Linked DNA regions of Homo sapiens: region 2 is linked to region 1. A link means that fine-mapping ties the variant in region 1 to the expression of a gene that starts in the linked region. Tissue or cell type: whole blood. Region 1 holds a variant in brackets; the other region holds the start of a gene. All regions are shown on one strand. Distances are from middle to middle.

Region 1 (5,157 bases):
TCGTGAACAAGATGTACGAAAAGCGTTGACGATAAGCATTGGGAAAGGTGACAGCCAGATCATCAGCTTGCTCTTAAGGAGGCTGGCCCTGGATGTGGCCAACAATAGCATTTGCCTTGGAGGATTTTGTATAGGAAAAGTTGAACCTTCTTGGCTTGGTCCTTTATTTCCAGATAAGACTTCTAATTTAAGGAAACAAACAAGTAAGTAACAAGGAGAATATTTTTTACAATTCTTATTTTTAATAGTATTTTTTTAAGTCACTAGTCTTTTAGTGGTTATTCATGCCAGTTTGAGGGACCTTAAGCCAAAGATATTGCAAAGGTTTGGATTTTTTTTTTTTTTGGCTATGAAATACTTCAAAATGACATTTAAGTTCTTTATGAGATAGCAAATAGTTATTTATAAAAATAGAGCAAAATAGTGGAAGCTTTTTGAAGGGGTACTTTTTAATATATATTTTTTATTATTAAAGTAAGATATCCCTGTTTTTAAAGGAAATATAAAATTATAAAAAAGAAAATAAAAATAACTTATTTTATCTCTTATAAGTAATTAATATGGATATTTTTCCTAACTTTTTATATGCTTACATGTACCTATGCATTCAAATGTATGTAAAAGCATACACACATATTTATTTGGCATTTTTAACTTAGAATATACTTTATATTTCAATTGATAATGCATTTTCTTTATACTTTCAAGCTCATGTGTATTTTGTACATATTATGTGTATTGATGGTAAGTTACCATCTTCTGACACTATTTTTATCTTTTGAGCTCTCTCATTTGTTCACACTAAATGTGTTTTTAGCGTGAAAGCTCCCAGCTTTCCCTGTGTTAACTTAGTCCCATGCCCATCTCCTTCCCCATGGTCATCAAACTCCATGAATCAACACCTTAAGGACCATCTTGCAAGTAACATGTTTGCTTCTCTCATTTTTATGATGCACTCACTAGCAAAACACCAGTTTTGGTCAGTCTACCAGTCTACTTTTTCCCTCAGTTTCACCAAGAAAACTGAGTGCTGCTAGAGAAAAGTACCCATCCATGCAATTTGGTGCCTTTATACATCAAGGTTTCCAACCGCTCAGTAGGCTCCAAAAGTTCCAATCAGGCTGAATTTTCCTCGGTTTCTCAAACACTTCGTGTACCCTTACTTCCAGTCTTTTTCCAGTGTTACTCTCTCTCTACCTAGCTCTAAATTCTCTCTTCACCTGGCTGTCTCTTCATTCTTCCTGTCTCAGTGCTATCACCAGTCTGGAAGGTTCTCTTACATGACCCTATAGCACTTTATTTCTCACATATACTACCATTCACCACATTATATAATTTAATTTTTCATTTTTATAATCTACTTTTTGGTAAATTGTTAGTACCATGAAGTCAATGTCAATTTTGTTCATGGTTGTAACCTTACCATTGATACTAGTGTTTTGCACATAGTAGATTATCATTTAGAATTAAGTATTCAATATTGGCAAAAAATAAAAATTGTGTAATACATTATGTTGATAAGCATGTGTGGAAACATGCTTCATATATTGATATGAATTTAAATTGTCCTCTTTTGAGGACAATTTGGCAATATCTACTAATATTTTTAATATATGTACATACTTTTTTGACCTCACAATGTACTGTTAGGAATCTATGATACAGACATTCTCAATGTGCACAAAAATTATGTACAAAAATGCACATTAAAACATTGTTTATAATAGCAAAAGAGTAGGAAAAAAACCTAAGTATTCCCCAAAAGGAACTATTCAAATAAATAATGGTACATACATGTTGTGGAATGCTTTGCAATCATTGAGGAAAAAAAAACGTGGAGCAAATTTAATGTCCTGATAAAGATTACATTACTCCGTGGCAAAAAAAAGGGCACAGACAGTGTTTTTACTATGCTAATGTTGATGAAAATGCAACTGGAATATGATAGTTATAAAAGTTTGAATATGAAATAAAACCCTCCAGAAATGGGTTCCCTGGTTGTCTCTGGGTCTTTGGAAATTACTGAGACATGGTTAGATCCCATGTTTCATTACTTAAACTAGTCTTATGCCAAAAACCTGCTTACTTTAATCTTCAATATCCGATGGAGAGGAATTGTGGGCCCATTGGAGAGGGAC[A/G]GAGGGAGATTTATCATTCACTATATTCTCTTTGTTCTGTCTGGAGTTTTTACCATTGACACATCTTACCCAGTTAAAAAAACATAGAATTGTCATTTGATTAATTGGAGGGTATAACCATGATTTCACTGGCAGCTGGTCTGAGTAAAGAACACTTTGGGTCATAGCTTTCAAACATTTTTCAGGTAGTATTTGCCTAAGTGACATATTTGTGTGTGAGCTCATCCTACCGGGCTTCGGGATAATTTCCCATATCATAACATATTACTCTGGAAAAAGGAACCATTTGGGTATATGGGTATAGTGTAAGCCATAGTATCAGTTGCCTTCTTGGGGTTTATCATATGGGTCCACCACATATTTACAGTAGGAATAGATGTAGATACATGAGCATACTTCACTCTGCTACTATAATTATTGCTATTCCTACTGTTGTCAAAGTCTTTTAGCTGATTATCTACACTTCACAGGGGTAATATCAAATGATCCCCCACCATGCTCTGAGCCCCAGGGTTTATTTTCCTTTTTACAGTAGGAGGCCTAACCAGCATTGTATTAGCCAACTCATCACTGGATATTGTACTACATGATACAGCAGTATCATGTAGTAATATTTGAAGTCATTACAGTAGTAATATTTGAAGAAATCTTCCTGGCTGTATGTAGAACAATGAGGACTCAGCCAACTTATTCTTCATAGTAGAGCTAATACATAATGTAATGAAGTTGTGAGAAGAATGTTAACTTTGAAATTCCATCAGGTTTCCCAATAGTCATAATGAATCACTCAGCAAACTTTATAAAAATAACAAGATCCTTTATTTAGCAGTTTATGTGTTCTATGCATTGTGCTAAACATTTTATATGCATCATTTCAATTACTCTTTTTCATCACCATATACTGTATTTATTATCATCTTCATTTTCCAGGTGAGGACACTGATACCCAGGGAGCTCATATAACTCACAAATGGCATTTCTATGACTTGAACACAGGCCTGTCTGGCTTCAAAGCCTAGGCCTTTTCCTGAATAAAGTTAGTTCCATAGAGATTCAGTTTTGCTGTCTACATGAAAGCATTGTGTACATGGTTATGTTTTTTTAAAAAATATATGATCTGCCACCTGTTAATTATTCAGGATCACTAGTGTAAGGTGACTTTGAAAGGAAAAATAGAAATATTCTCCAGAAGCATAGCAATACGTAAGAACTTTGGTCCTATGTATGTTTATTTTTGCATAATTGTTGATTTCTAAGTTGCTGGTGTATCTCTTATTTTCAGATATAGCATCTACACTAGCAAGAATGGTGATCAGATATCAGATGAAAAGTGCTGTGGAAGAAGGAACAGCCTCAGGCAGCGATGGAAATTTTTCTGAAGATGTGCTGTCTAAATTTGATGAATGGACCTTTATTCCTGACTCTTCTATGGACAGTGTGTTTGCTCAAAGTGATGACCTGGATAGTGAAGGTATTTATTATAAAAAAAAACCCTTTATGCTTTATATTTACACACTGACATTGAACAATAGGACCCAAGACAAAAACCTGACCTAAATCATCTGGAAAAACTTGAGTAGAAATGTGTTTATTATCGCAAACAGTTAAGTTTACTAATTTTGGTTAAAGTGATGGGTCAAGGAAGTGTGTCTCTGTGCTTCTAAATGTTATACTAATTGGTTAATGGTTAATATTCCAGGAAACAAACTCTGACTAGACTGGAACGAGATTCCACGCTCTGTCATTGACTAGATCCTTTCGTGGCTTGTGTAAGCCCCTTAACCTTGTTAAAGGTAGTAATGTCGACTTTGCAGGGTTATACATAATAATTAGAAAAAATGTATGTAAAATGTCTGCAACAATGCTTGGCAAACAGGAAGCGCTTAATAAAAAAGGTTTTTATCTTTACTATAGCTTAAAACAATATTAATATTTTAATAGCTCACTTGAGATAACTTTTTAAAAAATTAATATGGTGAAATATATAATGACAATGATTAGGGCTGATGTATTTAGCATTAGCAGTTTGGTAAAAATGGAGTGAGGGGCTTTCTTATTAATATAGTATGATTGAAAACACTGGGTGATAGAATAAGGATATTTGAGAGGGCAAAAAATGAGAGTTGTTCCAAAATATTGTGTCTCAAGTCAAACCATTTTTAAAAATCAAGTGTAGTGATTTATATACATATATAATTTATATAAAATAAAATGCATTCACTTTAAGTATATATTTTCATGCGCTTTGAAAATTAACATATTCATGTGGTCATTGTCGCTATTAAGTTATGCAATATTTTCATTATCCAAAAAAGTTTCTTCATGCCTCTTCACTGAAAACATCCCCTTCCCCTGGCCCCCCTGACCCTTAGCAATCATTTGCTTCCTGACAATGTAGATTAATGTTTTCTCTAGTTTTATATACATAGGATCATACAGTGAGTACTCTTTTGTGTCTGTTTTCCAAAATGATTGTACTATGTTCTACCCCCACCAGCAGTACATGAGCATTCTGGTTGCTCTACATCCTTGTCAGTACTTGGTATTTTCAAGTTACTTTTAGCTGTTCTAGTGGAGGTTTAATTCATTTAGATGTAATTTTCATTTCCCTGATGACTAATTATGTAGAGGATGTTTTCATGTTCTTATTGGCCATTCTTATTTTTGTGTGAAGTGTTGAAGTATTTTGCTTTTAATTGGGTTGTCTTATTATATAAGAGTTCTTTGTATATTCTAGATAGAAGTTGTGACAGGTATATGTATTGCATATTTTTTTCCCAGTCATAGCTTGTCTTTTCATTTTACTAATTCTATTTTTAACAAAACAGAGGTTTTAAATCTTGGTGAAATGCAGTTTTCCAGTTTTTTTCTTTTATGGTTTGTGCTTTTTGTATCCCACTTAAGAAACCTTTTCTTAGCCTAAATTTGTGAATATTTTCTCCCATATTTTCTCTTAGAAGTGTTAAAATCTCAGCTTTGGCATTTAGGTCTAAAACATTTTAAGTTGATTTTTGTGTGT
Region 2 (5,157 bases), 61 kb before region 1:
TTTGCCGTTTGACTTCTAGTTTCATTATTGGGTATTTTTTCTTTGACTGCAGAAAATTTAAATTTGATGGAGTCACATATACTACCCTTATGTGATTTCTTTTTTGTTTTTATGTTTCCTTTTTCAAGATTATATAACTATTAATTTATATTTTATTTTTGAAGTTATTTTTATTTAACTTTTTAATCTATTTGATGTTTGCTGTAATTAGTAATGTCAGTTTTATTTTTTTTCTTTTCAGGAAATTAGCCAAATGTTCTAGCACCATTTTATTCTCCACTGAACCCTGCTTCCATCATAAATTCATGCCTTAATCTTCATTTTCAGTCTTGTTAACTACTTGAAGAGTTGATAAATCTTGGAATTTCAGTCAATCAATTAAACATTTTTGAAAACTAAGAGAATACTTTACCTTAACACTGCAGTAGTTCATGGGAGAATGCTCCCAACAAATAATTCATATTTTCACACTGTCTACTCACAGTCTGGCCAATATAGAGTAGATAATAAATAGGCAATAGATGGATGAATGAATTGTGGAAATTAGGAGACATCTTTTAATTTAGATTTATTTTTCTTTGGAAGGGAGGTAGGTTTTAATTTCTTGCAAGGTTGTAATTCAGTAGAACAGGAAGGGAGAAACTAATGCAGAGGAACAGAAGGAATGCATGAGATGGAGAATGCCTAGAAATGTTTGAGACATTGATTAAGTCATCAGAAATGGAAACAAGTTTAGAAACAACTTAGAAAATAATACACTGTAGGTCTGATAAATATTGTAAGATTGGGAGTTTTTTGTTAAATTATGGAAAATTTTATATAGATACAATAGTAGAACAGACCACATGAACCCATCTCATATTATCTTCAACAATTATCAATTCAAAAGTTGTTATCGTTATCTCTATCTCCACACATTTCATCTTTTCCTCCACCACTGGATGACTTTGAAAGAAATCCTAACCATTTCAACTATAAATATTTTAGCATGTCTCTGTAAAAGTTAAAGACTCTATAACAACAAGACATAGACCCAATATCCAGGTTGAGTAGGAGTTTGCTATCTTACTAATCTAATGTATTAACAAAGTCTAGAGCATTCTTATTAAAGTGGTAGAGCATGAAGAACCTTCTACCTGGAGTTAGGAGATTTGCTGGGTTGAAGTCCTGGCTCTCAACTTCCCACCTGTGTGACTCCAGCAAAGCTCTTCACTTCTCAATTCCAAATCTCAATTTCCTCACTAGTGAAAGAAGGATACATAGTAGTAGTTGTATCCATTTCAGAATTGTCATCAGGATTGAAGTAACAGATGTGAAAACAAAACTAAAATTGTGAAGTAGTAACTTCCAGTCCAATCCTCTTCTTTGTAAGTGATCTTGAGGACAGACACATCACCTGAAGGATAGATCATCTTTGCCTAGCCTTGTCTACAATGTTCTTGCTAGGTTTCTTTTCCTAAAAACACATTACTTAGGTACTTAACAGAACAAACAAACAAACAATCAAAAGACAAAACCAAAAAACTTTGGGGTTATAGACACCCATACTCATAAGTATTTCTGAATACCAAGAGAAGAGTATTTAGGTTTGCTTCTCTCAACTTTTCACCTTTCATTTCATGTACCCTGTCCTTTGTCTCAGCTCTAATAGCTCTGAGAGCTGATTACTTTTCGGGTGTCCCAAGTATCAGGATCCTGCCTAGTGCAACTCAAATTTCCAAAAGTTAATTTAGTGGCCTTTTGGTGACCAGAGCTTCAGATAACTCACAGGGAAACAATGTTTATTTCCTCTCCCACTAACAGTCACAAAAAATCATAAAAAAGAGTAGCGGGGGCAGTTTTGATGGCTAACCCCTCTTTCCATCCTTTGGGGGAAAATTGCTCATCTCCCTATAGGTGGAACTCTAAAGACAATGTATTCCTAAAAGGGGCCATCTGGGCGGTGTCCTCTTTTCCCAGCGCCCTGATTTCTATTCTTAGATCTGGAGATAGGCGGCTTTCATTTTTCCTGCTCCCAGTTCCCAGACCTTCCGTGGGGCCGCAGGATCCCCGGCTGGCGGGTCGCGGAGGGTGGCCGGCCGGGCTGCGCACTGCGCGCCTCCGCTGCGGGGCTCCGGGCCTGTGGACTCAGCGGAGTCCGCTGAGTCAGTTTCTTCCCGCGCGACTCCCGGCCGCGCCGCCGCTGCGGTGGAATCTGGTCCCAGGAGGCGGCGTCCGCCCGGGGTCCGGTCTAGGCGTGCGTGGGGGCCACGGTCACGGTCATCCCAGCCAGGCCCGGCTCCAGCAGCCCCACGGCCGCCGCCAGAGTTCTGCGCGGCCCGTCGCCTCGGCGGAGCCTCTGGCAGGCCCCTGAGCTCGTTTTTGGGGCCTGAGTGGGGGAGGAGGAAGCCGAGCAGGAGGGCTCCGGAGAGGGAGGGCAACGCGGGGCGGGGAGCTGCCTCCTTCCTCATAAACAGGCGGGCGTGGGCGCCGATGGGGCCCGCGGGGAGCGCTGGCTGCGGGCGGTGAGCTGAGCTCGCCCCCGGGGAGCTGTGGCCGGCGCCCCTGCCGGTTCCCTGAGCAGCGGACGTTCATGCTGGGAGGGCGGCGGGTTGGAAGCAGGTGCCACCATGGCTAGTGGCAGCTGTCAGGGGTGCGAAGAGGACGAGGAAACTCTGAAGAAGTTGATAGTCAGGCTGAACAATGTCCAGGAAGGAAAACAGATAGAAACGCTGGTCCAAATCCTGGAGGATCTGCTGGTGTTCACGTACTCCGAGCGCGGTAATCACTTGAAAATAAACTGTGCTTTTATTTTTGCAAACTTTCTCCCCCTCCTTACATTTGCAAATTTTGTCCTCCTCCCCTTGACCCTGCTCAAACCCGGACTCTTAAGGAGCCGCAAACTCCCATATCCTTTCCTTAGGGCAGAAAGCAGCTGAGAATTTCAGGAAGGTCTTCACCTTTTTGACTTTTCTCCCCGTTTCAGACTAAAAAGGAGAGGGGGTGCTGTGGATTGTGACTTTGCTTCTTTTCCCCACCCACTTGTTTTCCAGCCTCCAAGTTATTTCAAGGCAAAAATATCCATGTGCCTCTGTTGATCGTCTTGGACTCCTATATGAGAGTCGCGAGTGTGCAGCAGGTAAAGGCATTGTTTTCACTTCAACTCATTCTCCCTTCTGTTTGGAAGGAGACGTTTTACTGGCAATGTTAATATAGCCGAGAGTTCTTGGTTATTCCCAAAATTTGGCTTGAGGAACCTCTGACTGTGATTTTAAGATGGGAATATTGTTAAATCATTACGCAATGTAAACGGGATGAAGAGCCCCAGTATGTGTTCCCTGAGTGTCTTTAAGAAGTAACTTTATAAAACCAACAGTATGGATGGTGGTAGAAGGAGGATAAAAATGGGTTCGGTTTTAGTCTCGTTATTGGCAAGATGAATTCATTAGTGTTTAGACTTGACTATTCCAAGTATCTTCCCAATACAGAGCATGTCCTAGATGAGAAGATTATGAATAGTTTGGAAAAGGGGAATAATTAATAGTGATAAAATGCAACTTTGTCACTAGCAAACTCTTGTAGAGTTCAGCACTTTTTAAAATTCAAAGATTTCTAGCCTTTAGTTGTAGTATACCTTGTAGTATCTAAAGAAAGTGATGTCTTATGAGACCCTCATAGTTTGCAACTGTTGTCATATAAAATGCATGTAGAAGTGAAACTTTTACAATCTGTACCATAGGAAACCCAGAAATTTGCTATGTATCTTGGATTTTTTTTTAAAGGGGGCCTTAAAAATGGTAATTAAGAATGATTTACAGTCAAAACAAAATTATAGGCCAAGGTGATAACTTCCTTCGGAGCACTTAGAGATTTGGGGAACTGAAATCAGTTTTGTCATCTGCATGTTAACTCATGCAGAGAAAGAGAATTGGACTTTGAACTCCTTGGAGGTGCAGTCAGAAAGCCAATGTTTCTTAATGGTTGAGAGGCTTGACAGACATGAGGCATCTCAATCTTTAAAGTGGTGTGGGTCTATCTTTATCTTGATGTTTATCTCTGTATCTAGCTGTATCTAGTCTGGGTGAACCATCTAGCTTCTTTGATATGAGGACATTTACATCTGGAAGAAATATTTTAATTTGTTTTCAACTGTGAAATATTTTCCATCTGACTATTATAGATTTTCACGCTGCTATCAAACCAAACCAAGAAAAGATGGAGGCATAATAAAGATGCTGTTCTTTTAAGACTCAAAGTCGGAATTTTGCCTGTGGAATATGAGTCACTTTTTGGGCACTGGCCTATTGTGCTTCCTGCTCTGCACCCACGTCATCCCTTCTTACTTGTCTCTGCTTTGGTGTTCAGAAGTGCCTGATTCTGGCCACCTTCATTCCCTAGACTCTGTACTTGATAGAGTCACTCCTGCTTGATACTGCTCAGGACAGTCAGATCCTGGGTAGGCGTTTTGGTCTGCAGGGTCTAGATAAGGCAGTGCTATACTTGACAACCCAGGGGAGCCTGGAACATACTTCCTAATTCTTAATTTTAGAAATTGCCCAAGCCTGAGCATACTTGTCCGGAGTAGTTATGAGTGTCACTTAGTATTTCTGCCTAGAGAGTACCAGAGGCAAAGTATGCTGGAAAATAAGGAAGAGTTTTTTTAAAAGTAATTAATTACTTTTTTGGATATATCATAGTTGTATATATTTTGGGGATACATATGCTATTTGATACATGTATACAATGTGTAATGTTCAAATCAGGGTAACTGGAATATCCGTCACCTCGAACATTTTTCTTTGTGTTGGCAACGTTGCAATTTCTTTCTTCTAGCTATTTTAAAATATGCAATGAATTATTAACCATAATTTCCCTGCTATACTATTAAATATTAACTTAATTGCTTGTATCTAATTATATTTTTGTACACATTAACCACCTTCTCTTTATCCCTCCCCATCCTTTCATTTCCAGTCTCTGGTAACCACCATTCTACTCTCTTCCTCCATGAGATCCACCTTTTCCGCTCCTACATATGAGTGAGATTATGCAATATTTTATTTCTGTACCTGGCTTATTTAATTTAACCTAATGACCTCCAGTCCCACCCATGCTGTTGCAAATGACAGGATTTCATTTTTTATGACTGAATAATATTCCATTGTGTATGTATACCAC

What was found. PIP is the estimated chance that this variant, and not a neighbour inherited with it, causes the effect.
Region 2: LRRK2 starts here. The variant in region 1 is fine-mapped to the expression of LRRK2 in whole blood (INTERVAL, PIP 0.96).

Annotation. Positions count from the first base shown.
Region 1 is chr12:40,283,931-40,289,087 of GRCh38, forward strand. It overlaps LRRK2 (leucine rich repeat kinase 2), which reads left to right. Exons shown (of 51, transcript NM_198578.4): 19 at 1-203; 20 at 3,421-3,609. Among named protein-coding and RNA genes, the nearest start is that of LRRK2, 62 kb to the left of the region's middle. The variant A/G (reference allele first, on the strand shown) is at 2,139.
Region 2 is chr12:40,222,523-40,227,679 of GRCh38, forward strand. It overlaps LRRK2 (leucine rich repeat kinase 2), which reads left to right and starts at 2,475. Exons shown (of 51, transcript NM_198578.4): 1 at 2,475-2,760; 2 at 3,033-3,118. The coding sequence starts at 2,610. LRRK2-DT (LRRK2 divergent transcript) reads right to left here and starts at 1,300. Exons shown (of 9, transcript NR_186757.1): 1 at 1,137-1,300. LINC01779 (long intergenic non-protein coding RNA 1779) reads right to left here and starts at 2,381. Exons shown (of 1, transcript NR_186584.1): 1 at 554-2,381. RefSeq lists a silencer at 2,241-2,600 and an enhancer at 3,799-3,888.